4 linked regions of the Homo sapiens genome follow. The protein of the gene in region 2 purifies or fractionates together with the protein of the main gene of each other region. This does not show direct contact. Each region holds a gene or a part of one and is shown on either strand. Other genes may lie near its edges.

The links.
Region 1: the proteins of DNAJB9 (region 2) and TRHDE purify together in Homo sapiens (affinity purification with mass spectrometry; 2 studies listed by BioGRID and IntAct, with this or other methods). This does not show direct contact.
Region 3: the proteins of DNAJB9 (region 2) and ARB2A purify together in Homo sapiens (co-immunoprecipitation; 2 studies listed by BioGRID and IntAct, with this or other methods). This does not show direct contact.
Region 4: the proteins of DNAJB9 (region 2) and SCARA3 purify together in Homo sapiens (affinity purification with mass spectrometry; 3 studies listed by BioGRID and IntAct, with this or other methods). This does not show direct contact.

Annotation. Positions count from the first base shown.
Region 1 is NC_000012.12:72,275,346-72,282,372, reverse strand, and holds part of TRHDE (thyrotropin-releasing hormone-degrading ectoenzyme), read right to left. Parts: intron 1-7,027. UniProt on the Homo sapiens protein: Specific inactivation of TRH after its release.
Region 2 is NC_000007.14:108,565,480-108,572,900, reverse strand, and holds the start of DNAJB9 (dnaJ homolog subfamily B member 9 precursor), read right to left. Parts: upstream 3,028-7,421; 5' UTR 2,798-3,027; intron 1,185-2,797; 5' UTR 1,175-1,184; coding exon 958-1,174; intron 3-957; coding exon 1-2. Other genes in the region: THAP5 (THAP domain-containing protein 5), read left to right, coding at 3,332-3,411, 6,879-7,071. UniProt on the Homo sapiens protein: Co-chaperone for Hsp70 protein HSPA5/BiP that acts as a key repressor of the ERN1/IRE1-mediated unfolded protein response (UPR).
Region 3 is NC_000005.10:94,101,641-94,108,667, forward strand, and holds part of ARB2A (cotranscriptional regulator ARB2A isoform 1 precursor), read right to left. Parts: intron 1-7,027. UniProt on the Homo sapiens protein: Plays a role in the regulation of alternative splicing, by interacting with AGO2 and CHD7. Seems to be required for stabilizing protein-protein interactions at the chromatin-spliceosome interface. May have hydrolase activity.
Region 4 is NC_000008.11:27,636,892-27,643,918, reverse strand, and holds part of SCARA3 (scavenger receptor class A member 3), read right to left. Parts: intron 1-7,027. UniProt on the Homo sapiens protein: Seems to protect cells by scavenging oxidative molecules or harmful products of oxidation.

The sequences.
Region 1 (7,027 bases), on a different chromosome or scaffold from region 2:
GAGAAAAAAATAACAAGTTTGGAGTGAATTTGTGGTGAGTTTGAGGTGGTAAGCAGAATACCAAGTATAATAAATATAAAAAATTAATTAAAAATCGAAATATTTCAATTATAATGTGGACATGAAAAAATATATGTAAATATAGCAAAAAGTAAAACAAAACAGCAAAAGGCAGAAGGTAATGGGGACAAGTATTTTGTTGTCTGTTATTCTCCTGCTTTCCTAAACAAAATCATTTTTATCTTTTAATGAATCTGTCTATTACCATAAAAAATTCCACTTTCAAAAGTGACATTCTGGGAGTGTGATTCGTAGAATGTCATTTTAGCATAACTGGAAAAATGTGAATAGCATACATGTATTTTAATTCTCTTCTATCTAAAATAAATTACTTTATTTTCTTAACAACTTGTCTATTTGACATTTTGGTTGAGCTAAGAAGGAAGGCTTAAAGCTCCATGTTGCCTCTGAAGGATATAGAGAATTGATTTCTTCTTATTTCTGCGGAAGTTCACTAGGCAAGCTACTTGTATCAAGTCATTATGATAACATTCAGCAGAAGTAATGCATTAATGTTGGTTGATATTGCCAACAAATTACAGTATGTGATACAAAACAATTTCTGCTCCATTATTTTTCAGTTTGCCTTTTCATAAAGGTAAGACATGCAGAGGAAACAAACATTTGCATAACACTGTTAGTATTCAGATTGATTCATGGCATTTCACTGTGGAATCCGCCAAAACCAAGAGAATCTCACAAACAGCATGGATGACTTGAAAGGTTTTCTTTTTGGCCACATCTCTGCATAACACAGTGCAAAATGATTTTGAACCTACTTCTATAGCAACTGCAATTTCTCTAATATTGCAGTAGTTTAAGATTGGTAATAAAAACTCCCAAGACCTAAAGAAAAGTTTCAATGGAACATCTAGTTACTATTCAACTGATTGCAGTAAGCGGACTGTTACAAGGTCATGGAAGTTACACGTGTCCCATTTAAAATTGTTAATCCAAAATGCAAATTGTTACTCGATGACTAAATTCTTTAAGGCAAAATGGGTCGTTGTTTAGACTGTGTGTTTTTATGCACTTCAATGAGTCATTAAACCTCTGCTATTTCAGAAGAGAAGTACTCCTGCTGAATATTCAATACTATAAGCAAGTGTGTAGTCTATTTTTTTTAAATAACCATTGGAGTAAACTAAAAACATAAGGCAATAATGCCAGCAATATGTATGTAGGAAGTGGTGCATATGTGAATAATCGTGTTATAAAAACAGAGCATAATATTCATAATTGTTTCACCATTTATGTACTAAATATGCTTACCAAAAATAAGTACTGCGTACTTGATCATCATTGTTGAAGGGTATTATGAATGCATTAAAATGACTTTCCCAGGTCATAATATTAGGTTTTCATAAAAATAAATAAAATTCGTGTCTGAGATTCACGTTTTTTTATTGGAAAGAGGCAAAATATTACGGAAGTATTATAAAGTACTGCTGTTGTCAAAACCACATAAAGTCTTAGGAACAATATCTAATGATTGAGACGCCTTTCCCTTGGTACTTAAGGCTTTTCTTCTTGCTGTACTGGTACCCTTCTGACTCTTCAGTCTCTGGTTCCTGCTATCTGGTTCCTGCTATTCTCACTGCTAATAGACAGCAGTGCTGTAATCAGAGACTTGTGTGTTTCTCTTGTTTCCCTCAGTCTTTCTGCTCCCTCAACCCTCTCCATCTCCCAGTATTTGATCCAAGCTGGGAGATTCTCTGGCTGAAATACCACAACCTTTCTTTTCCTTCTTTTTTTTCTGGTGACCAGGCTCCTCTTCTTCCTTCCCACCTTCTTTTCCCATTCCCTGTCTTTTGAACTCTGCTTAGGTGGTAAAAACAAACAGCAGCCAAAGGGATGTCCACGGTGACCATTTCCCCACTGTTTTGCCAGCAAGGGGAAACCCCAAAGCAAGAACGTTGGTCCTACACAAACTGGTACTAGCCCAAGTAGCAGATCTCCAGCCATGGAATAATAAAATTATATTTAATAACCACAGATGTGCTTACCAATTATCAGACACTGTTCTAAGTGCTTTATTACTGATGTAATCATCACAACAACCCTGTACAATAGAATATCATTATCTCCACTTTCCAGATGAGGACACTAGACACACAGCAATTAGGAAATCTGGCCAAGGTCTTAAAGCTAATAAGTGGCAGAGTCAGGATATGAGGCCAAGCAGTCTGGTTCCACAGTCCCTGCATAGGAGGAAGAGAATGAACACACTAAACACATACACACACACTTTTCCATCCAGCGACACAACAAAAGTGAACTATTTTTTAAAAGATATAAGATTTTTAAAAATAATCTATTTTTAAAAGATGTAAAAAGTAACCAACAACCACAGTTTTTGAACTACTTTCTTTGTCTATCCTCTGATTTTTCTTTTTTTAGTTGTGTAGTCATGAGGAAAGATGTGAATGATTAAAACAAAACTTCATCCTGCAGCACACACATAGGTGTGCACTGGGAGGAATTAATTCACCCTGTCCCTGTACAACTGGGGCCACAGTTCTATAAATGTCAGGTCCACCCAGGCATTCAGAAGCTTGGAGGCAAAGAAGGCAGGAAGGGTGAGCCTGGGTTCTTCACCCTTATTCAGCTCCATGCAACACTGCCAATCTTATTCTACCCTCACACTGCCACCACCACCATACAGCTGTGCCTGTTTGTGCATCATTTTAGGTTGTCCAGGAAACTGGAAAAAGCAGGAAGTATTTTTCACGTTTGAATTTTCCAAAATTCTGCCTAGTAAAATTCTATCTGTGGGAGAAAGTATGCAGTCTCCTGTAGTAGAAAGTAGGATGGCATGAACTTTGAAAAACCCTGGTAGAAGCTGGCCAGTAATGTAAATCTGGAAGGCAGTAAAGAACATGCAAAGAATTGAGAAATGATGATGATGATGATGGTGATGATGAAGATTATGATTGCTAGGGGTTGGGAGGATGAGCATTGGGGGTGAAGGAGGGATGCCCTCCTTAAAGACCGTAAAGCATTTATGCCTTAAAGGTAAATTATTTCTTCCTCACTGTTTTTGTATCACTCCTTGAAGTCATACTTACAGAGGTAAGTCCCATTTTTGTAAATCATATTGACCAAATGTCACCACCCTCAAGCACACCTAAAACATGTCCTGCATTGTTTGCTCAAGCCCATCCACATACACAGTGGCAACAATCAGTTTAAATAAACAAACATGTTGTGCAAACCAAACAAATACTGGGAAAGCCAGTATCAGGTCCATCTTTATTTGAAAGGGATCCGAAGCAGATAGGCTCAGTTTGGAGTTGCATTGAATAAATAAAAACAAAGGCAACTGCACAGGCAACAAAAGCAAAAAATAGACAAACGGGATTGCATCAAACTAAAATGTTTCTGCACAGCAAAGACAATAAACAGTAAAGTAAAAAGACAACCTATAGAATGGGAGAAAATATTCGCAGTCTGTACATCTGATAAGTGATTAATGACCAAAACATATAATGAAATCAAACAACTCAATAGCAAGAAAAAACAAAATCTGATTTTTTAAAGTGGGCAAAAGACCTGAATGAAAATTTCTCAAAATAAGACATACAAATGGCCAACCGGTATATGAAAAATGTTCAACATGACTTATCATCAGGGAAATGCAACCACAGTGAGATGTCAACTCACACCTGTAAGAATGGCTATTATCAAATAGACAAAAGATAACAACTGTTAGCAAGGATGTGCAGCAAAAAGAACCCTTGTACACTGTTGGTGAAAATGAGTACACTATAAATTAGTACAGCCATTATGGAAAACAGTATGGAGGTTCATCAAAAAATTAAAAATAGAACTACCATATGATCTGGCAATCCCACTACTGGTGGATTATATATCCAAAGAAAAAGAAATCATCATGTTGAGGAGATATCTGCAACATGTTTATTGCAGCATTATTCACAGTAGCCGAGATACAGAACCAACCTAAGAGTTCATCAATGAATGGATGGATAAAGAAAATGTATACATACACTAATGAAATACCATTCAGCCATAAACAGAAGGAAATCCTGTCATTTGAGACAACATGGATGAACTGGAAGACTTCATGTAAGTGAATAAGCCAGGCACAAAAAGACAAATATTGCATGATCTCAGTAATATGTGGAAACTAAAAAAGTTGACCTCACTGAATTAGAGAGTAGAATAATGTTTACCAGATAATAAGAGGTTAGGGGAAGAATGGAGTTGAGGAGTTACTGGTCAAAGGATATATAATTACTTAGAAAAAAGGAATAAGTTCAAGGGACTTATTGTAAAGCAAGGTGACTATAATTAATGACAATATATTATATTCTTGAAAACTGCTGAGAGTAGATGTTAAACATTCTCACCACAAAAATAGCTATATGAGATGATGCATTTGTTAATTAACTACATTTGTTCCAAATGTATGCATACTTCAAAACATTAGATTATACAAGATAAATATACACAATTTTATGTCAATTAATTTGAAAAAACTGTATATTTAATTATTATCCAGGGTGATCAAATCAAATGGCACTACAGGAAACACAGAAAGACAAACACCAATTGCATAGATTTTCTCCCTGAGTGAGTCATTATTACATGGTCAGAGCTTTTTTTTTAGTAAACATTGTCTAGATACGGTTTACTGGTGGCATTTTGAATTGTGTTCAAAATCCAGCACTGAACTCAGTTTTGCCATATGGTTATGTGAGCCTGACACAAAAACAATGAGCTAAGTCCATTAAGGAATCACAGAAAAAAGTTTTTACAGAAACAAATGGTTCTCAAAGATTTTTTTCAGTTCACAGTCCTCTATAGAGGGACAAAAAGCAATATACTCCTACTTGCTCATGTTAAGCTATCTTCTTACCGAAGTGAATGGGAGAAATGAAGTTGCTTTCGATCTAAAAATAATGTAGTGAATTTCTTGTTTGTATTAAATACCATGAGTATTAATTCATTCTGAGTAAATTACAAGGCATCAGATCACACAAATACCACAGTAGAGCAAATGCCTACCCAGAGATAAAATCCTCCATTCTCTCCCCAAGATTTTTGCAAAAGGATGGTCCCAATTCTCTTTGAGAACTACCACTATTATTTTCCCATTTTACTTGGAGACTATAGTTTCTCTCTAAACAATCCTTTATAGAAAAGGACCTCATATTTTTAATGTCGTCTCACTTTGGCATGTTATAGACCCTATTAAAGTTTGTCAAAGAAAAACAGTCTCCCTTTTGAAAGTGAACAAAATGTTCTTTATCTTGGCTATATTTCCCTTTCAATTCAACCATCTGGATCTAAATTAAGGTACCCTACTTTGAACACGGGTGCGCTCACCATCTGGCTACCCAAAAGTGGCAATTATTTCAGGTAAACGGACATTTTACCTAATTCTAAGCAAGCATACTCTTTTGTCGGAGACTACAGCATAAATACACACCCATTTTTATCTGCCTGCTGCACACCTAGTTGATGAAAAAGTGAGTATGTATTCTGCCTAATTTACTTATTGGTGTGTAGACATGTGGATTTTAGGAGAATTTATTTTCAATGTTCAACAACTGTAGTAACCAAGAGTAGAGAATTTGTCTCAACTTGGGAAAACTTGGGCTTCAAGAGGGAGCTCGTCTTCTAACCTTTGTACATTACAGTATGGAAATCAGGAAAAGCAAGTCTTCCCAGTTGTACAAAGCCAGGCTACTTACAACACCCAGAGGTGGGTAAAACCTTCCAGGGGTCCAAGGTATATAGCACACAGTAGAATCTAATTTCCCTGCCGTCACCAAAATTCTTTTGCTCAGGTCTCTGAGAAGCAAGTTGAAGAATCAGACTGATAGGATTTTAATGAGTTAGTGTTTCCACATAGGCTAAGAGAAGTGGACTGCACTGTAGTATTGCTGTTTTAAGCATTTCAAGTTGCTCAATATGACTTCCTTTATCAGATTACATATTTGTTTTTATTACAGACATTACCCTATAATTAAATTGGCAAAATTATATCTAACTAAAAACCAAAATGTTTAATCATTAATCAAATGAAAATTCAGTGCTTGCATCTGCGTCCTATTTGAAAGTGGGTTTTAAAATGCCAATTTACATTGCATTTTGTGGACAACATAAAAGTCCAACCCTAGCTGAGATGCTGATATGGGTCTGTTTAAAAATGCTCCATGCTCCAAGTGGCTATAGTAACAAAAAATGTTTAATAAATAGAAAGTTTGCATAACTATGAAATGGTTTATTAGATTTATTTCTTTTGTCTTATCAACTCCAGTAGAAACATCCAAGAAATTATAAGATTTACTCTAATAATAATAATGAGGAAGGAAAAAAAAATGAAGAACAAGGACTTTCTCTAAGATGCTGTTTAGAAATAAAACAATCCTGGGATTTTCAGAACACTGAGTTCTGCATTTCTATTGGGATGAAGAGTTTAACTATATGTTAACTAGGTTGAACTTCCAACCAAGTTGTTTACTTCTTTGGGGAAAACTGCAAGAGAGTTTGAGTACAAATACGCACTAGGGGTACAAGAAATCAGTTACGGTTCAAGCAGAAACATCTGGTCTTTTTAAGAGTCCTGTTAATTTGAAAGCATTGACCAAAACAAGCTCAGTTCTGCCAAACATATTTTGGCATGGCTCAAAAAACAGGATTTTTCAAAAGCATTTATTTCACTGCAGCAAGATGTATCAGTAATGATATGCAACTCCCACTATTGACATTTTGACCTAAGAAGCTTGTTCCTAAACATAGTATGCAAATTTGTTTTCTATGCCTTTCCCCCGTATTTGACATAATTCTGGGTTTAAAAAATATTTTTAATCTGTATTCTTTAGAACATGTTGGAGGAAGTGGTAGAAGGGGGTTTAAAATATCCATATCTAATGTCAGGAGTAAGAAAGTGAATAATTTATACATTCACTTATAGGAGGTTTTAACTATCATACAGCTA
Region 2 (7,421 bases):
TGCTGAAAGTGACAAAAATATTTTTAGTAACTGAAGGTAAAATATTCAAAATTACATATATTCAAATCTCTTCAAGCAAGTGAACTGAATACTATTATTTTAGGGAAGAATTTCGCATCAGAAATAAAAGCAAAACACTACAAATATAAGCATCAAGTTAATCAAAATTATAAAATAAAGCAGAAACTGTCTTATTAACTGCTGAGTTATCAGCAGTTGGCACAATGCCATCTGCAATACTCAATAAAGTTATTAAATGTTACCATTACTACAAATAAACATGTGGGCAACAATCAGAGTTCTTTAATCTTCATATTATTCGTGTGAAATCATTAATTGTATTAAAAAATTAAACCATCAACTATAACCAATTAATAGGAATTAAGATTTTGCACCTCCTTACTAAAGTAAACTGTTTAATTCTAACTCCCTACTCAGTTACCTCCATCCAACAATAATTACTGAATGCTCAGCAGGTGCAATTTGTTTTAGAGCTAGTCTGAAGTCAAAATTTGTTCCAATTTTTTCTTTGAAGACAAATATGGCTTTGAAAAGCAGATCAAGTGAATAAAGCACTTTAGAGTCTAGTTTAATTTTTAAGTCTTTAATGTTTAAAATGTAAAATATTCTGTTTCATAAGTTAGTTGATAAGAATTTTGGGTACCTAAAATTCTTTTTTGTCATAGAAGCAACAGTGATCTTATAAATAATATAGAATAGATTTTCAATATTTTTAGATACGTATACCAATAAAATTATCTATTATTCTTTCATATATTTATTCAGGAATCAAAGCATCTGTGATAAGAAAATAATCTCAGAGAATCACCCAATATTTATACATAAATCCCACTCCACCTCCCATCTCCACAAAACCTTCAAATACAAACACTTCTTAGCTATCATTCTCCTTACTAGTTAATACCCATGACACTTCAGAGATTGTCATTTATTTACCTTCTGCAATCTCTCTGAATTTTGCTTCAGCATCCGGGCTCTTATTTTTGTCAGGGTGGTACTTCATGGCCAACTTGTGAAAGGCCTTCTTGATTTGGCGCTCTGATGCCGATTTTGGCACACCTAAGATATCATAGTAGCTTTTTGAGGCCAGAATTAATTCTGTTATCATTAAAATGCAGATTGCAAAGATGAAAATTGACTGGGGAGTAGCCATTTCTAATATCCTAAAACAGAAAAGAAAAAAAAATGTTATGGATGGAGCTAATCTTAAAACGTTTTTCTTTTAAAAGAAATCCAACACAAGGTAAACCTAATGCAGTATCAAAATAGTAAGCATACAGTATCTATTACCTGTCCACATGTAATTTCACTTTTAGTTTTATAACTCTCAAACTGGCTTAACCTTATTGAGAACAAAAATAATTCTTGGCTTTGTCTGTCTACTAATACTCTGGCCATACACAGAGGAGATAGAAAATTATCAATAACTGACTTTTAACCAGTTTATATTGAAGATTCATCATATGCAAGCATTGTAAGAAAAAAAAAGAAAACCAAATAATATAAGATCCCAACTTTCCTTTCAAGACTTCATATCCTGAAAGTAATAATGTATTTAACTTCACAGAAAAAAAAAACATTAAAAAAAAAAGGTGGCGCACCAAGGTAAATAGCCCAGTATATCTAAATTAGTATTATTAATCTCGCTCCAAAAATTCAGCTTTCATTTCAGCAGGTGAGCCAAGGACTGCAAATAGAGAATCTTAATATCACAATACTAATACTGACAATACAATAGAATGTTGTCTTTTTCCCAAATGTAAGATCCCAAATGTTTAACCAGGAAGCATGGCTAAATATTGTTTAAAACTCATGATGAACAGAATTTAAGATTTCTGCTAAAGCTGCCAGAAAAATGAACTTTGATAGTTTGTACTGTGGTTAAGGCAGATTCTTACTTTCACAAACTCAGTAGTTAAAATATTTCTTTTACCTTTAAACCATTAAAGAAATGTTAACTTAGAATTCTTGACAATATGTATTCAATGACTTGAGATTCAAAACGAAGGGATGGATCCTGTTTTTTGAATACGGGACCACCAGAGTCCTTAGTAACCTATAATGCCATAATAAGGCTGACGAAAAACACTACGGTTTGTGGAAATTGCCTGGCTTCCTCTCCAGCGGCCTTTCCTGAGAGTAATTAGCAGGCAGGTAGATTACTTATTTCCAGAGAGTTACTCGTAGTCACGGGTACCAAGAATCAAGAACCACTTCTCGGTTTAAGGAACACAACAGTGTGTCCCATGGACGCTGCGTCAACTGCAGGTTGCTCCCTAGTCAAAGGGCGGATCTAAAACTGACAGGGAGGCGCCTCACTGGTTCAGCAGACGTTATTCCACGGTCTCAAGGTGGACATCTAATGATTTTTTTTTAGCAGACTAGTTTTGTATTGTACAGACTTCTCATCCCCAAGACGGCCCCGCCAGCCAGCAGCCCGTGCCTTATTCCCCAGCCTCGGTGGGCGGCTGGGCTAGACCCTCCAACCTTCACCTAAAGGCGACTGGCACTTTCCCTGCCCGCCCAGGCCCCGCCGCAGAAGCTGCCCGAGACCCGGGCTCTAATCCGGCGCCCGTGAAAGCCGGCGCCACAACCCAAAACACGATTCTGTGATGCGGCTGTCTCCGTTCTTCCATTCTCTCGGCCAAAAACATGCAGCCCATTGTCCCTGCGGCGACCGTGGCGGACACCGAGGCCAAGTCAGCTCACAAAGACAGGCCTGGGCTACGGGGACCCTCCGAACTCCCCTCCCCACGACCCCGGCCTCGTCCCTCACCTGCACCCTCCGACTACTGCTGCTCCTCCACAGAGCTGAGGCGCTGGCGACCCTGACGATCGGCTCGGGTCGGCAGCTTGGGCCCGGCCCCTCACCGCGGCCTCCCGGAGCTGGCACGCACCCTAATCTCGGTCGTACACCGACCTAGCGCTCCTCCTTCCCCGCCGGCGCCCAGTCCCCTCTCAGCCAGCTCCTCACAGGCAGGAGGTAGCCGCTGGCGCCACCACCTCAGAAGACCTACACGAAACGCTTCCCCATTGGCTTCTGCCTCCCCACGTGATCCCGGCGCCCTACGCGCACGTGGAAAACTGTTGTTGCTGCTAGGGCTGTGCGCCACTTCCGGCTTCAACCCCCGAAAAGGCGGTGCTTAAACCGGAGGAGGCGGAAGTGAGTCGACAGACGAGGCGGCTTTCCCGGCAGAATGCTAGCGCAGGCGCAGGGGCTCGAGAGGCCTGGACCTGTGGCGCATCCTCAGTGAGGAGGGCCGCCCTGCATCCGTCGCCGGCCCCGGTCTCCAGGGGCCTCACCCGAGTCATGCCCCGCTATTGCGCAGCGATTTGTTGTAAGAACCGCCGGGGACGAAACAATAAAGACCGGAAGCTGAGTTTTTATCCGTAAGTTGTTTCTGGAGCAGAAGCGTCAGCCTCGCCGTGAGGCCTTGGACCTGTGGCCTTTGGGCTTGGGTGTCTCCTGTCCGCTCTGCCAGTGAGTCCTCAGCTCTCCGTACGTGGCCCGTCGCCCGCGGCAAGACGGAGGGAAGGCGCTAGTTCAGTTTAGCTAGCAATGCCCTTCTTGCGCGAGGACTGCTGGCTGGTGGCGAGGCCCAGGAGCCTGTTTGGGTGTTAACAGTTAAAACAGTAAAGTTTGCGCGGGCTTCTGTGGTTTTCAGTCTTTTCCCCACTTCACGTGATCTCATTTCATTGAACAACATTAACCACCATTTAAGATACGTGAAACCTGCGAAGTGGAAAGGTGCACGCAAAGTTAATTTACACCCCCCGCGAGGTAGGTCGCATAGGTATAATTTCATCCCACTTTTCTCCTGAGGAAACTGAGGCCCGGAATGATTAGGTAACCGACCTTGAAAGTTTAGTGTCAGAGCCAGAATTATAAACTAGTCTTCTGCTTAGGGCTGTAGATACTCTGCGGAGAACAAGGTTTTATTCTGTTACTCTGAATTACTAGAGCCACGATATATTTCCATCAAACTACTGAAGCACTGATTTTTATTCAGAAGTACAGACAAGCAGTGTCGTATAATAATTAGGGGTCCAGGCTTCAATGCTAGATCCTGGTTCCACTATTCTGTAGCTTAATGACCTCTTGGAAAGTATTTAAGCTTTGGTGTCTCACATATCTCATCTGTAACATGGAGATGTTAATAGTACTCACATGATTAATAACACATGAAAAGCAACATATTTAAAATACTGCATTTCCATTTTTTCTTGTATTTAAAAACAATTCATTTAGATCTAACCTGGTTCAGATTTTCAGCAGTTGTTTTGTGCTCATTTTACTTTAGACCTGAAGGACTTATTCATTAATGATTCGGCTGCTTTCCAGTATTTTAATTAATGGAAAAAAAATTGATAACCCCACCAGGCGCGGTGGCTCACGCCTGTAATCCCAGCACTTTGGGAGGCTGAGGCGGGCAGATCACCTGAGGTCGGCAGTCTGAGACCAGCCTGACCAACATGGAGAAACCCCGTCTGTACTAAAAATACAAAATTAGCTGCGCGTGGCGGCGCATGCCTGTGATCTCAGCTGCTCGGGAGGCTGAGGCAGGTGAATCGCTTGAACCTGGGAGGTGGAGGTTGAGGTGAGCCGAGATCACACCATTGCACCACAGCCTGAGCAACAAGAGCGAAACTCCGTCTCAAAAGAAAAAAAAACTGATAACCCCAAGTAATTCACAATCCATGGCAATATTTCCAGGATTGTCTCCCTTGAAGCCCAGCCTCAAGATGCAAAGAGATGTTTGGGGGAGGAAAACAATCTAATCCACTTTCAGTTTATAGGGAAATACTACTGTACTAATGGCTCTATCTCTGAGAATGTTTGTAGCAAAAGATCATGTTGAACTTGATTTAACCCCGTATTTCCCAGATTTATTTGGCCTTTGATATTGGAGATGGGGTATAACCCCACACTGAAATTTTTAACTAAACTTTGTGGACCTTACAGTAACTTTTTAGGAAGGAAAAAATAATGCAAGTGAATTGTAAAGATTTTTTTCACTGAAAATGTGAATTTAGTAAAAGTTGTATTATTTCTAGGGTTTTTAAAAAATTTTCTTGTGTAATCCACAAAATAAAAATTGAATTAGTTTTATTCTCCAGTAGCGTCAAACTTGAATTGAATTTGCTCATGTTAACACTACAGCAAACTGTAGTTTAAATGTATATGAATTTGGGAATTCAGTTAATATAGTGTCCAGTTTGTACTGTGATTATCTTATGCCTTTTGGGGAATTACATAAGACAATGAAACAAAATTATCAAATGAATTGAACCAATATAAAGACATAATTTATTCAGGAAACATGATCAAGATTTCTTAGAGATTTACCTATTGAAGCAATACAATCCAGTAAACAATAAGGATATTCACAAAGTTTTTTTTAATGAGTTGATAACTTAGCATATAGGTACAATGGAAATAATTTGCAAACAGCATCCATATACATGAATTTACAGTAAAAAGCATTATTGTAAAAGGCCTATTCTCATTTCAGTTGTAACAAAAGAAATGAATTTACCAATGGCCAGAAGAAGTCAGGTCCTCTAAAAGAAAATTTGTCTGCCTTTAAAATTCCTTTTCTGGTTATGCTTGTCATACTTACAACCTAATATTTGTAAAGTTAAAATATTTTTAAAACATGATTAATATTGCTTCTGTGGTTGGAATTTCCAAAGGTAGTTTATCTGATTTTTTTCCGTATGAGGATATCAGGATTAAAAGTTATATCTTACAGAGTACCCAGACTTTCCATGGCATCTTAAAAAGTTACCAGAATTTAGGGGGAAAAAATGATGCTACTACAAAACATAAGCTAAATGATTGGGATTGCGGGAAGGGAGTGTATAACAGCTACATTTTATATGAGAAACCTTATATTGTTACTATTTTTAAAAACAGGAAATTATGTGGTGTCTTGGACTCTGTTCTTGGAAAAGTACCAAATGGAATATAAACCATTTTCAAATATTGTTTTGTATACCTTGACCCAAACCTTTTTAGATTGATAGGAAAAATTTTCTATCAAATTCTGCCATACACTGTAATGTTAGCACCAACTTTAAATCCAGGTTATTGTCAGGTACAGGAACAAAATGTATACAGCGCTGTCTTGCCATTTGTATTTGATTTGTTTCATATAAAATATCTGAGACTGTCCCTTTTAACATGTTCCATTCTTTTCTTCTATCAGTTTCTCCTTCAGAACTTGAAATTTGGAGTTCCCAGTTCATTGGTTATAGAAGTGTAGTACTATTAGACTAGATTACTTATAGATAGAATTAAAGATGATGCTAGTAAAGAGAATATTTTCAGTACTTTTTCAGCTAAATCATTTGTTTGAAATAACATCTTATTTTTTAAATATTAAATAAGATTGTAAAGCTTAATACTGCCTTGAATTATAGACAACAAGCCATTTGACATGTGGTGGTATTATGAAATACATTTGAATAGGAATTTATAATTTATACAAACCTTTTTTCTAGTTCTAGGCAAACTGTACAGCAATATAAAAATGGAACATAATCCATAGAAAATACAAATAGATTTTGTCCTTTATAGGAACACATATATTTTACTTGAAGGGACTCTGAATTATGTTCAGCTCTTATCAGATAAGAGCCTTGGCTACATGTCTTACATCTTAGGCCTCTTACTGCAGAGATGATAATGGTACTAGTTGTCATGAAGATGCTCTTATTTGGTAGGGATGGTTGCCTTCCTCTTGTAGTACTTACTTGATGCATAGGTTACCCAGATATATAGGGTGGGAATTTGGCAAAATTGTAAAAATATAGCAAAGTTTTTCCTTTTTTCTTCTTTTTTTTTTAAATTCCAGATTTCCTCTACATGACAAAGAAAGACTGGAAAAGTGGTTAAAGAATATGAAGCGAGATTCATGGGTTCCCAGTAAATACCAGTTTCTATGTAGTGACCATTTTACTCCTGACTCTCTTGACATCAGATGGGGTATTCGATATTTAAAACAAACTGCAGTTCCAACAATATTTTCTTTGCCTGAAGACAATCAGGTATTGCAGTATGGGAGAGGGGTAATGCTGAGCAGAGTGGCAGATTTCAGGGTGGCAGGTGATCAGGTGGGAGAGTAAGAGGGAACTATAACTTGGGTAAACAGATACTTGGAAAAAAGGGAGCACTAATTTGTGCTTTTACTAAAAGTGATAATTAAAAAAAATTAAACTCATGAAGCACAGCTTAAGAGAAGCAAGAGATATACATTATTAAGTTATTAACACAAGTTCATGAGTTTTATTTTTTATACTTTTTTTGTTTGAGACAAGGTCTCATTCTGTCACCCTGGCTAGAGTGCAGTGGTGCGATCTCAGCTCACTGCAACCTCTGCCTCCTGGGTTCAAGCCAT
Region 3 (7,027 bases), on a different chromosome or scaffold from region 2:
CATGGATGAAGCTGAAGGCTATCATCCTTAGCAAACTAACACAGTAACTGAAAAACAAATACTGACTGCATGTTCTCACTTGTAAGTGGGAGCCAAATGATGAGAACTCATGAACATAAAGAAAGGAACAACAGACACTGGGGTCTACTTAAGAGAGGGAGGTGAGGAGGAGGGCAATTAGCAGAAAAGATGACTATTGGGTACTGAGCTTGATACCTGGGTGATGTAGTAATATGTACAACAAACCCTGTGACACATGTTATCTATGTAGCAAACCTACACACGTATCCCCAAACCTAAAATAATTTTTTAAAAAAAGGAATAACCAGGAAAAAAAAAAGAATACTAAAGCCCTCCCCGTCATAGTGTAAATAATGAATAATTACAAAATGAAACTTTCCTCCTGAAAATTAGCTTTAACTATGTTATATCATAGGAAATAATATTAATAATTCCAAAGTAAAAAAAAAAAAAAAAAGTCAGAGTGTCTTCCTACCTCCAAATGACTGCACCACCTGCCAAAGAATGGTTCTTAACCAGGCTGAAATTATAGACATAGAATTCAGAATCTGGATGGCAAGGAGAATCATCAAGATTCAGGAGAAAGCTGAAACCCAATCCAAGGAATCTAAGGAATCCAATAAAATAATACAAGAACTTAAAGATGAAATAGTCATTTTAAGAAGGAACCAAACTGATCTGATAGAGATGAAAAACTAAAAGAATTTCATAATACAATCAGAAGTGCTGAGAAAAGAATAGACAAAACTGAGGAAAGAATCTCAAAGTTCAAAGACCAATTCTTCGAATGAACTCAATCAGACAAAAATAAAGGCAAACGAATAAAAAGAATGAACAAAATCTCCAAAAAACATGGGATTATGTAAACAGACCAAACATATGACACATTGGCATCCCTGAAAGAGAGAGACATGAGAAAGCAACTTAGAAAACATAATTAAAAATTATGAAAATTTCCCTAACCTCACTGGGGAGGTAGACATTCAAATTCAGAAACTGCAGAGAACCCCTGTAAGATGCTATTCAAGACAACCATGCTGAAGACAAATAGTCTTCAGATTCTCCATGGTCAAAGTGAAAGAAAAAATCTTAAAGGGAGCTAAAAAGAAGGGAGAGGTCACCTACAAAGGGAACCCCATCAGGCTAACAGCTGACCTTTCAGCAGAAACCCTACAAGCCAGAAAAGACTGGGGACCTTTATTCAGCATTCTTAAAGAAAGGAAATTCTAACCAAGAATTTCATATCTAGCCAAACTTTGCTTCATAAGTAAAAGAGAAATAAAATCCTTTTCAGATAAGCAAATACTAAGGGAATTCACTACCACCAGACCTGCCTTATAAGAGGTCCTTACGGAAGCACTAAATATGAAATTGAAAGGCCATTACTGGCCACCACAAAAACAAACACACTTAAGTACACAGACCATTGACACCATAAAGCAACTACAAAATTAAGTCTACATAACAAGCAGATAACAGCATAACAGGATCAAATGTTCACATATCAATACTGACTCTGAATGTAAATGGACTAACTACACCACTTAAGAGACACAGAGTGGCAATTTGAATAAAGAAACATGACCTAACTACATACTATCTTCAACAGACCCCTCTCACATGCAATGACACCCACAGACTCAGAGTAAGGGATAGAGAAAAATCTATCAAGCAAACAGAAAACAAAAAAGAGACAGATTGCTCTTTTAATTTGAGACAAAACAGACTTGAAAGCAACAATAATCAAAAAGGACTAAGAAGGGCATTAAATAATGATAAAGGGTTCAATTCAACATGAAAACTTTAACTACCCTAAATATACATGCATCCAACATTGGAGCACCCAGATTCATAAAATAAGTTCTTAGAGACCTACAAAGAGACTTAGATAACCACACGATAATAGTGGAAGACCTCACCTTGACACCCACTGACAGTACTAGACAGACCATCAAGGCACAAAACTAACAAAGATATTCAGGACCTAAACTTGACATTTGACCAAATGGCCCTAACAGATATCTACAGAACACTGCACTCAACTACAACAGAATATACATTCTTCTTATCTGCACATGACACATACTGTAATATTGACCACACACTCAGCCATAAAGGAATTCTCAACAGATTCAAAAAAAAAAAAAAAAAACTGAAATTATACCACATTCTTAACCACAGTACAAGAATAGATCTCTCAAAATCATATAATTATGTGGAAATTAAACAATCTGTTCCTGAATGACTTTGGGTAAACAATGAAATTAAGACAGAATTCAATAAATTTTTTGAAACTAATGAAAAGGAAGAAATGACATACCAGATTCTCTGAGACAGAGCTAAAGCAGTCTTCAAAGGAAAGTATATAGCACTAAACACCTACATCAAGTAGTTAGAAAGATCTCAAATTAACAACCTAAAATCACACCTAGAGCAACCAAAAAAAAAAAAAGTAAACTAACCCCAAAGCTAGCAGAAGAAAAAACCAAAATCAGAGCTGACTGAACAAAACTAAGACATGAAAAACTATACAAAAGGTCAATGAAACCAAAACGTCGTTCTCTGAAAGAATAAATAAGATTGACAGACCACTAGCTAGACAAATAAAGAAAAAAGGAAAGAAGTCCAAATAAACACAATCAGAAATGACAAAGTGAACATTACAACTGACCCCACAGAAATAAAAAAAAAAAACTCTCAGAGACTATTAGGAACACCTCTACCTACACAAACTAGAAATCTTAGAGAAAAATGGATAAGTTCCTCAAAACATACAACCTCCCAAGATTGAATCAGAAGGAAATTGAAACCCTGAACAGACCAATAGTGAATTTCAAAATTGATCAGTAATAAAAAGCCTACACCCAGAAGAAGTCCTGGAAAAGATAGATTGACAGCCAAATTCCACCCAACATATAAAGAAGAGCTGAAACCAACCCTACTAAACTATTCCAAAAAATGAGAAGGGACTCCTCGTCAAATCATTCTATGAAGCTAGCATCATTCTGATACCATAACTTTGTAGAAACACAACGAAAAAAGAAAACTTTAGACCAATATCCCTGATGAATATAGATGTAAAAATCCTCAACAAACACTAGCACACCAAAACCAGCAGCACATCAAAAACCTAATCTACCATGATCAAAATGGCTTTATTCCTGTTATACAAGGTTGGGTCAACATATGTAAATCAGTAAATGTGATTCAACACATAAACAAACCTAAAAACAAAAACCATATGATCATCTCAATAGGTGCAGAAAAGGCTTTTGATAAAATTTAACATGTGTTAAAAATTTTCAACAAACTAGACATTGAAGGAACATACCTTAAATAAAAAGAGCCAGTTATGACAAATCCACAGCAAACATCATACTAAATAGGCAAAAGCTAGAGACATTTCCCTTGAAAACCGGAACAAGACAAGCATGCCCACTCTCACCACAACTATTCAACATAGTACTGGAAATTTCAGCCAAAGCAATTAGGCAAGAGAAACAAATGAAAGGCATCCAAATTAAAAGGAAGTCATACTATCTCTGTTCACAGATGATATGATTCTACACTTATAAAACCCCATGCTCTCTACCCAATGGTTCCTAGATCTGATAAACAACTTCTGCAAAGTTTCAGGATACTAAATCAATGTCAAAAAAATCAGTAGCATTTCAGCAATAACGTCCAAGCTGAGAGCCAAATCAAGAATGCAATCCCATTCACAATAGCCACAAAAGAAATAAAATACCTAGGCATACAGCTCAACAGGGAGGTGAAAGAGCTCTACGATGAGAATTACAAAATGTTGCTGAAGAAATCGGAAACAACACAAATGGAAAGATATTCCTTACTCATGGATAGGAAGAATCAATATTATTTAAATGGCCATGCTGCTCAAAGTAATTTACAGATTCAATGCTACTCCTATCAAGCTACCAATGACATTTTTCACAGAACTAGAAAAAATATCTAACATTCATATGGAACTGAAAAATAGCCTGAATACCCAAAACCATCCTAAGCAAAAAGAAAAAAGCCAGAGGTATCACACTATCTGACTTCAAACTATACTACCAGGCTACAGTAACCAAAACAGCATGGTACTGGAAAAAAAAAAAAAACAGACACATAAAACAATGGAACAGAATAGAGAACCCAAAAATAAAGCCACACACCTAAAACCATCTGATCTTTAACAAAGTCAACAATAAGTAATGGGAAAAGGACTCCCTATTCAATAAAGAGTGCTGGGATAACTGCCTAGCCATATGCAGAAGATTGAAACTGAACCCTTTCCTTTTACCATACACAAAAATCCATTCAAGATGGATTAAAGACTTACATGTAAAGCCTTAAACTATAAAAACTCTAAAAGAAAATCTAGGCAATACCATTCTGAATCTAGGCCCTGGCAAAGATTTCATATGAAGACTCCAAAAGCAACTGCAACAAAAACAAAAATTGAAAAGAAAGACCTAATTAAACTAAAGAGCCTCTACACAGCAAAAGAAACTATCAACACAGTAAACAGACAACCTACAGAATGGGAGAAAAAAATTCGCAAACTATGCATCCTACAAAGGTCCCATAGCCAGGATCTATAAGGAACTTAAACAAATTAAAAAGCAAAAAAACCCATAAAAAATGGGCAAAGGACATGAACAGACAATTCTCAAAACAAGATATACACATGGACAACAAACATATGAAAAAATGCTCAACATCACTGAGCTTTAGAGAAATGCAAATCAAAACCAAAATAAGAACCATCTCACAACAGTTGGAAGGGCTATTGTTAAAAAGTCAAAAAATAACAGCTGCTGATGAGGTTGTGGAGAAAACTGAATGCTTATACAGTGGTGGGGGGAATGTAAATTTCAGCCACTGTGGAAAGCAGTTTGGAAATTTCTAAAGAACCTAAAACAGAAAGAACTGCCATTCAACTCAGCAATCCCATTCCTGGGTACCTACCCAAAGGAATATAAATCATTCTAATAAAAAGACAACATGTACTCATATGTCCATCGCAGCACTATTCAAAAAAGCAAAGACATGGAATCAACCTACATACCCATCAACAGTGGACTGAACAAAGAAAATGTGGCACATATACACCACGGAACACCACACAGCCATAAAAAAGAATAAAATCATGTCCTTTACAGCAACATGGATGGAGCTTCACATTATCCTATGTGAATCAATGCAGAAAAAAAAAAAAAAAAAAAAAACAAATACCACATGTTCTCACTTATACATGAAAGCTAAACATTAAGTATACATGGAGAAAGAAGGAAACAATACACAATGGGGTCTACTTCAGGGTGGAGGTTGGGAAGAGGATGAGAATTGAAAAACTACCTATCGGGTCACTGCACATGTACCCCCTGAACTAAAATAAAAGTTGGAAAGGAATAAAAGTTTAAAAATGAAATAAAAACTACTCCTTTAGCAATTTCCAAGTAAAACATAAATAATCTGATATGAAGAAATGCTTTGCTTTGATGGTCTTCACAGTGTTATTTTCTCTGAAGCAAAAATTATCTCAATTACGTATATTACAAAAGAGATCATTTCCTCCAAATGGAGACAACAAACAATATTAGAGAAAGCAGCATAGCACTTCTGTCTCTAATTTCTCTGTAACTTAGCTGTGAAACCTTGAGTCAGTCATCTGCCATCTCATCTGCAGTAAATTAATCAATTTTAATTTGCCAAGGAGTTACAAGTAAAATTGTCATACAATTTTTCATTCATTAAACTAAAGCAAAGTAATTGATTTAAATGAGCTTTATAACTGAAATAGCTCAACGTAGCACCCCCAAGAGTATCTAATAAATTATGACAGTGTACAAAACATTCAATAGTTAAAAAAAAAAAAAAAAAGACGTTGTTACCTTGAACTTATAGGCAATTGGACATTCTGGATTATTAAAAATGCCCTTCCTTCTTAACAGATTATATTTTAAAAATTTTTTACAGTTTTGGACATTGTTAAATTATACACTCAAATTACTCAGTTGAACTCATTATGAATAGAAATTATGTGGCACATGATCTGAACAACTTCGCTTACTCCTATAGAACTGTATACAGTGCACACCTTCCAAACACTCACTGTTGAGCTGTATGGACTAACATACATTATTTGATATACAGTAGATCTTACTGGATTACTCAGGGCCAACTGTCTCAATTCCGAACCACATACTGAGATGAAGCTGGTGATTTGCACTCCCTCATTCTACCCTCCATCCCATGCCAATCTGTAGAGCATAGCTCTATATTACTTTTTTTCACTTTGATTCTGGGTCCCCTCTCCTCTGCTGTCAGTTCTGGGGCTCATGATCCATCACTATTACTGATCTTTGCCACTCTCCATCTAGTGAAATCAAACTGCTACACTGATATCTAACACATCTTTTCTGTTTCTTCATCATTTTTTGGCTCTTCTGGTACCTGCTCTTCTCAGCAAGAACCAGAACACGTCTTTTCTGTTTCTTCATCCTGTTTGGCTCTTCTGGTCCCCGCTCTTCTCAGCTACAAAACAAACGACATCTACTACACAGGCACAGTCAGCCATTTAATATACTCCTTTTCTTCTAATTAAAAAGAAAAAAAAATCAAAACAGGCCAGGATAGTCTTTGGCTTTCTGAACTGTTTTCATGGCAATTTGAACCAAAAGGTTCATTTATTATTATAGAAGATGGTGTATTTTTTTTTTTAATTTCTAAGTTTGGAGTTACTACAGATACCTGGTCAACAGACAAGTTGAGAGTTTTTACAATTACAGGATTAAAGAGTTAAAATGCAATAAAAGTCATGGTGGCTGCCTTCTTAACCCTTAAAAACTCCACCAAATAAATCTCCAAAAATTTTTATTAAATCATATCTTAAAATAAATTCATAGAACTCCAAAAATATATACCAGTGGTCAAAAAGGACATGAAAAGATGCTTAACATCACCAATCATTAGGGAAGTGCAAATTAAAACCACAGAGAGA
Region 4 (7,027 bases), on a different chromosome or scaffold from region 2:
CAACTGTGGTCACCAATGCCGGCTTTCTTTTGGTTGACCAAAAATGTGTCCTTGGTTCCCTCTTTCGCCTTTCTGGGACTGCATTCTTCCATCTGAGTCAACAAGGGGGAGAGATTCGAGGAACTGAATAAAAGGTCTTTCTTTGGGCACTTCAAGGAACATATTTTGATAATTATCTTCTGCAGGGTTCACAGAGTGGGTTTTCAAAACAGCCAATTGGATCGGTAAAAATAAAGATTTCAGAGTCTTCTCTGGAGCCAATGCTATATTTAAAGTGCAGAATAGCTATTAGTTTAAGGTTGGAGAACGCTATAAGTAAGGTTGCAAAATTGTTTTCATTAGAGCCCTTCCGCCACTACCCCCTCTCCACAGGCTTCCTTTGTGGGTTTGTCTGTAATCGGTTGGGAATCCGCCTGCCCGCTCAGGTCTCAAGACACAGGTCCTTTCCCTTCAAATCTTCTTGCTCAACAAGTTGTCCTTTTCTGCTTCCGTGGCTCTGCCAGTTTCTCTCCTCCAGCACTCGCCCCTTTTTTGGTCCCCATCCTCAAGCTCCTGCATCCCTAAAGCCACATCTGCTGCTCTGAGACAGGCTTCCCTCCCGGTTCCTGCTACCTCCACCTGAATCCCTTTGGCTGCCTCCCACCCTGTTCTTGGTAACCACAGAGGTTGTGGGTAAATCCCTGCTTTATCCTAAATCCCCTTTATCCTAAACAACTTTCTTGCCCTCAACTTTTCTAACTTGGACCCTATTCCAGGTGGTGCAATTCTTCATTAGATGAGCACGGCCCACTCTGCACAGACATTCAGCATCCTGGCCTTGCCCGCTAAAGGCCAATAGCAATCCCTGGTCATTGTGACAACCCCGAATGCCCACCCATTTCTAAATACCTGCTCGCAGGCTGGTGCTGCCTCTAGTTGAGACAAGAACCTAGGCTACTCACTCAATGCAACAGACTCCCCCCATTACTTACACACTGATCTCCTCTCTGTCCACAGCACCAACCCCCCCGACTCCCCTGAACCCCATGAATTCAGAGGGATGGGAGGGGTGGGAATCACTGGCTTTCTTTTCTTTTCTTTTTTTGTTTCTTTTTATAGACAAGGTCTTGCTCTATTGGCCAGGCTGGAGTGCTGTGGTGCGATCATGGCTCAGTGCCGCCTAGACCTCCCGGGTTCAAACGATCCTCCCACCTCAGCCTCCTAAGTAGCTGAGGCTACAGGTGTGTGCCATCACACCCAGCTAATCTTGCTTATTTTTTGTAGAGACAAGATCTCACTATGTTGCCCAGGCTGGTCTCAAATTCCTGGCCTGAAGTGATCCTCCTCCCTGGGTCTCCCAAAGTGCTGGGATTACTGGCATGAGCCACCATGCCTGGCCAGGAATCACCAGTTCTCTTGATCCCCGTTGTCACCCCTGATCCTGCAAATCCTACCCTGTCTCGCATGGGCACCCCACTTCCCTCCTCTGAGTTTCATGTTCCTTATGCGTAAATGGTGGGGAGATCGTCCGCTTCAATGAGCTGCTGTGAAAATCCAATGAGACGTATATGAAAAGTACCTGGTACATCGTAAATGCTTAATAAATAGTAGTAGCAGCCACTTTTATTAGGATTATTTTTCTATCCTATTCCAATTAATGCTGCCATTTATTGCCATCTCCCAACCCCCATCACTCCCAGGACCAATTTCCAACTTACAAGAAATCAGTGTTTCAAAACATATCCTATGGGACACTAGTCCCAAATTATTCTTTGTGAAAAAGGATTATTTGATCAAGTAAGTGTGGAAAACATGGCATACTCTATCGCCATCTTAGAGATTCACATTCACATAGTAAGCATTTTGAAAAGTCCTGCCAAAAAAAATAATAAGCCCATTTAAATCTGTGTTTAACTCCACGTTTCTCAGACTTATTTGGTCATGGAACTTCCTGCAGATCTTGAAAAATAAATGTATCTTTTAATTCTGGGACCTATGTTCAGAGGCAGAGGGACTCTGACTTTAGGGAACACTGTTCTGGACAATGACATCACCTGGATTGGATGAATTCTTCATTCTGTCTCCTGCCATCAACTTGAATGGAAGCAGCTTTTCTGTTGAAACTCAGGGCTCTGGACATGGGATTTACTGTCTCATCTCTACACATCCTGCCTGCCCTCTGGAGCTTAAGGCTTATTGCTGTTCCATCTGCTTGATCTCAAGCCCCTTGCCTTCTTCATCCCCAATGCACTCAGCCTTTCCTCGCTCTCCTTCCTCCAAGTTCTCATTCGCCCTGACCTCCAAGCCCAGCCCAGTCCCCAAGGGTTGAGTTCTGCCCCATGGAGCCTGTAGTTCTCTCTCCTGGCCATGGTCCCTTCCATCCTCAGCCTGCTTTCTTCGAATTGCACTAGAGAAGCCTGGAGCTGCAGGAGAGTGTCAGAGGGGGGCATGCATTTGGCTTCAGCCAAGTCCTGCCATCTGGATCCTCACTTCCCATTCCTGGGTTCCTCCTCAGGTCAGCCCACCTCATTCCCCAAAGATGAGCTCACCCCCTCCTTTTCTGAAAGGATCAAGACCATGAGGTTCCAACTTCTTTCTTTATCATCCACTAACTCTGTCCAGATGCCTACACTTCAAACCCAGTCTGGGGGAGGGATGGGGAAAGAGGCCTTCTCGTGCATTCTGAGTAGCCTGGCACCCTCTGTCAATACTGCAAGGGCGAGTGCCCTTTGACTCAGTAATCCTCCTTCTAGGAACTTCATGTTAAGAGAATAATTACACAATTAGGCCAAGGTGTATGTGTAAAGGTGATCACTGCATGCTATGATAAATCTGAGGGAAAATGCAAATAGCTAAAATGCCCATCTCCAGGGGATTGGTTACATAAATGCTCGTAGAGTCTTACTATGGGATGTTATGAAACCATTTTTTAAAAATACTGCAAGCTGGGTGCAGTGGCTCACGCCTGTAATCCCAGCATTTTGGGAGGCTAAGGCAGGAGGATCACTTGAGCCCAAGAGTTTGAGATCAGCCTGGGGAACAGGGTGAAACCTCATCTCTACAAAAAATACAAAAATTAGCTGGGCATGGTGGCATGCATCTGTAGTCCCAGTTACTTGGGAGGCTGAGGTAGGACAATTGCTTGAGCCTAAGAGGTTGAGGCTGCAGTGAGCCATGATAGTGCCACTACCCTCCAGCTTGGGCAACAGAGCAAGACTCTGTCTCAAGCAAAGAAACAAACAAACAAAAACAAAAGCAACAACTAAAAACCAGCACTAAGAACAAAAACGCTAAGTAATCGGGAGGCTGAGGAGGGAGGATTGCTTGAGGTCGGGAGCTTGAGACCAGCCTGGGCAACATAGCGAGACTTCATCTCTACAAATAATACAAAAATTAGCTGGGCATGGTGGCACCTGCTTATAGTCCCAGCTACTTGGGAGGCTGGGAGGATCCTTGAGCCCAGGAGGTCAAGGCTGCAGTAACCTACAATGGTACCACTGCACTCCAGCCTGGGCACAGAGTGAGACTATGTCTCAAAGTAAAATAAAATAAAAATAAAAATAACATGGATAGTGTAATCTTATCTACATGAAAAAAATCTGTGCAAACATACACAGAATGATTTCTGAAGAATGTTCATCTACATTTTGTCATTTATTATCTCTACAGGGCAGGAGTTCACGTGAGTGAATGTTTTTCCTTTTTGGAATTTTTTGATTTTTAAAAAAATAATAAATGTGTTATAAAAAGGTTAAATGCAGCTGCTCGTAATGCAGAGTCTATGTCTGTAACCATCTTTTCTCCTTCCCTTGCCTCCCGATAAAGAGATTCTTTCTTCTCAAAGCAAGTCTCCCTCAATTCCACCGCTCTGTCCCCAAGTCCCCCCATGCCTCTTCTGTCCCTCCCCCTCCCAATGAGCACGGGCCATCCCTGCCTTGAAATCCTTTGAGCTGGGCCCTGCCTCCCACTCTAAGGACACAGCTCCTCCTGCGCCTTTGCTTCTGATCCACTCAGCCCCTCTGGCCCTTGCAACCTGGCCTTCTCTGATCCATGAATCCTGAGCTAACTCTGCTGATCAGCAGTCAACGCGGTGGGTCATTTCCTCCCCCTTGGAACTTTCTCCTCTCAATTTCCATGACATTACCATCATGGTTCTCTGCCTGTGTCCTGGACTGCTCCTCTTGGCTCCTTTACAAGCTCATTTTCTTCCTCCCACTCTCTAAAAGTAGAGGTTTCTCAACATGGGCTAAGGCCACGAGAGAATATCTCCAGGGGCAAGTGGCAAATAGGCCTTCTCCTGACAAACCCTCCCAGGTCTCTCCAATGTCAACCAGACACAACCGCGTGTCCTTTATGGAGCACTCAGGTCCTTTCTGGCTTAGGGCTCCCTCAACTGCAGGCCATCTCTCTCCCCCACCACCAAACACTCTTCCCCCAGGACCTGCTGTCCAACTTTTCCCAGCACTCCTTCCTGCCCTCTTCACTGACCCCATCCAACTCCTCCCCACCCTTCAGCTCCTCCCTGAAGCCTTTCTGAACTGCCCAACTTGAAATGCTCCCTTTCTCTCCCGGGATTCCCATCCAATCTCCCGTATATGCCGTGCATTTGTTCTTTTGTGGCATCTGCCTGGATGATTCGGTTCTCGTCTCAGGTGTGCACGTCTTATTTCTGCTGGGAGGGCAGAAAGCACCCAGGCTTGCCTTCCAACTAGCGTGCTTCCTCCCTAAAAACAGGAACTCCATACATGTTGGCTGACTGAAAAGTGTGGGCTGGGGCAACAACTCAGAATAACCCATTTTTTAGCTTGGGTTCAGGTGAAGGGGAAGGTGTCTCATCTGAACCATGAAGAAGGTGCCTGCAGGTCTCCACCTGGAGACACTGAGGACACCGATGGAAATACAGCTGTGAAGCCCAGAGAGGCAAATCTGGTGCCGTCAGATTTGCCAGCTCCCACATGTCACATCTTCGAGGCTGGGAGAGATTGTTCAGGGAACGGGTGCCAGCAAGAACCAGGAGCCTGTCTGTGGCTGAAACCGAGGACGCATTTCGAAGAACAGCAGCAAAGAAGGAAAGCCAGGAAAAGAGCCCAGCCCACCCCCAAACTCTCTCGCTGGGAACTCCCTTAAGACACTTATCACTGTTAGTCTTTTTTTGAGTGACTTGGGCACAAATCCTATGTGTCCTAGTAAAGAGTAAGCTCCCTGAGAGAAAGGGCAGCATCTGAGCTCTTTGTAGCTTCCTCAGTCCTTAGACATATATAGACATACAGAGCCGGGCACCTGGCAGTCGCCCCATCGCTGTTTGTTGAATACAGGCATCTTTCTGCATGTTTACGGAATGCCTGCGTGAGGTTCTGACGATACCATGGTACAGTACAGATGTGCACACTGAACAGACTTAGTGGACACCCCCTAAGTGCCAGAAACAGACAGAGACCCCACTGTCATGAAACTTACACTCTGATGCCATCCCATGGGATCATCTGGTCCACCTGGATGAGGGGACTGACCCCAGGGAGTACCAGGGACTTCATCCCAGTGATAAAGCTGGCCTATGACAGGGCTGGGCCTGACCTTGGGACTCAGTGCTCTACACACACACACACACACACACACACACACACAATCACTAAATTATACATGATCAAACATGGGCAGTGCATGTATGAGAGCCATGCCCAGCTATGCCACCCTGTACATCAATTCTAACACCCAGAACAGCTGCCTGTCCTTCACGGAAACTGCCAAGCTATCCATCAACCTAGCCTACTGAGAAACAGAAGGCTTTTTCCTCGCTCTCGATGAGCCTTGGGACCTGAGTCTTCAGTTATTAGGCTTACCCCCAGCTAGAGGGCAAAGTGACTGTTTTGGCTGGGGGTGGGAGTGGGGCCGATGTTTGAGGATTTGGAGCCGAACTCCAACATCTGAGCCGCTGGGCTCCCTGGACCCCTCAGTTAGGCTGTCTGGTGGCTCTTTTCACCTTCACCACATCAGCTCCTTTTCTTCTAGCCCTGGCTCCTTCCCGTGCCCCTGGGGAATGAGGTCAGGCTTTCTGGGGCCCCCAGCCTGGCCGCTCATGAGTGGAGATCCTCTCCTCTCGGCCAGAGGAGCGGTGCAGGGCGGATTCCTCCTGGGATTGCATCGCTGTGTTTTCACAGCCCCTCCTCTCCCCACTTCCACCCTTTGCCTAAATGAAGTGGGCACTGCTCTCTGATTCTGGAAGGAGGGGTTGTTTCTCCCACGCCTGAGGAACAGAGGGCTGCCCCCTGCCCTGGCCACCGCAGTCAAGCAGAAGTCTCTCGGGGCAAAGAGGCCACAAGGTGGGCCCGCTTCCAGCCACCTCACCACTGAGTCACTTCCGCTCCCCAAGTGGTGCTCAGGCGCAGAGCTCTTGGGCCTCAGGGACCACCCAGGAGGACAACGGGGCCGAAGAGGGCAGATGATGGGGCCGGGACTAAAGCCCATGTCTTCGACTCTCAAATCAGTCTTCACGGTGCACCAGCCTGTGTCTTGGGCATCTTGGGGGTGGGTCACTCTTACTGGAAGTGTGGAAACAACCCCACAGGTGGCTGCTAATGGCTTGGACAAGCCAGTGGGAAGCTCCAAGGTGGGCCTATCACCAAGGGGCTGGTGGCACCTGAGTGTCCCCTTAGGGCTGCGTGTGAGAGGGGCCAGGTGCCAGCTTGGATCAAAAGAGGCAGCGGCCTGGGAGGCCCTGTCAGCTGGCCGTGGGGCAGGAGGGGCCTCGGGTGGAAATGGCTTGGCTGGCAGAGTGGGCCCTGGCACTCGGCCACCGGTGGGCTGGGCAGCCCGACTAGCGTGTTTTCTTGATCACCTTCCCCACCATCACCGGTTCTCCATACAACATCACATCACATCACGTGTTTGTTTTGAGCAGGGCATGATCCTTTGCCAACAGATGTAATTCGAAGTTTGGTGTGGCCTCTGGAGGAGCACGGGAAGGGTTCTCTGGAAGGGGCTGCCTGCCCTACTCTGCCGGGCACTTTACTTTTTCCACTCGAGTGAGAAAAATCCTGGTTCTTTACAC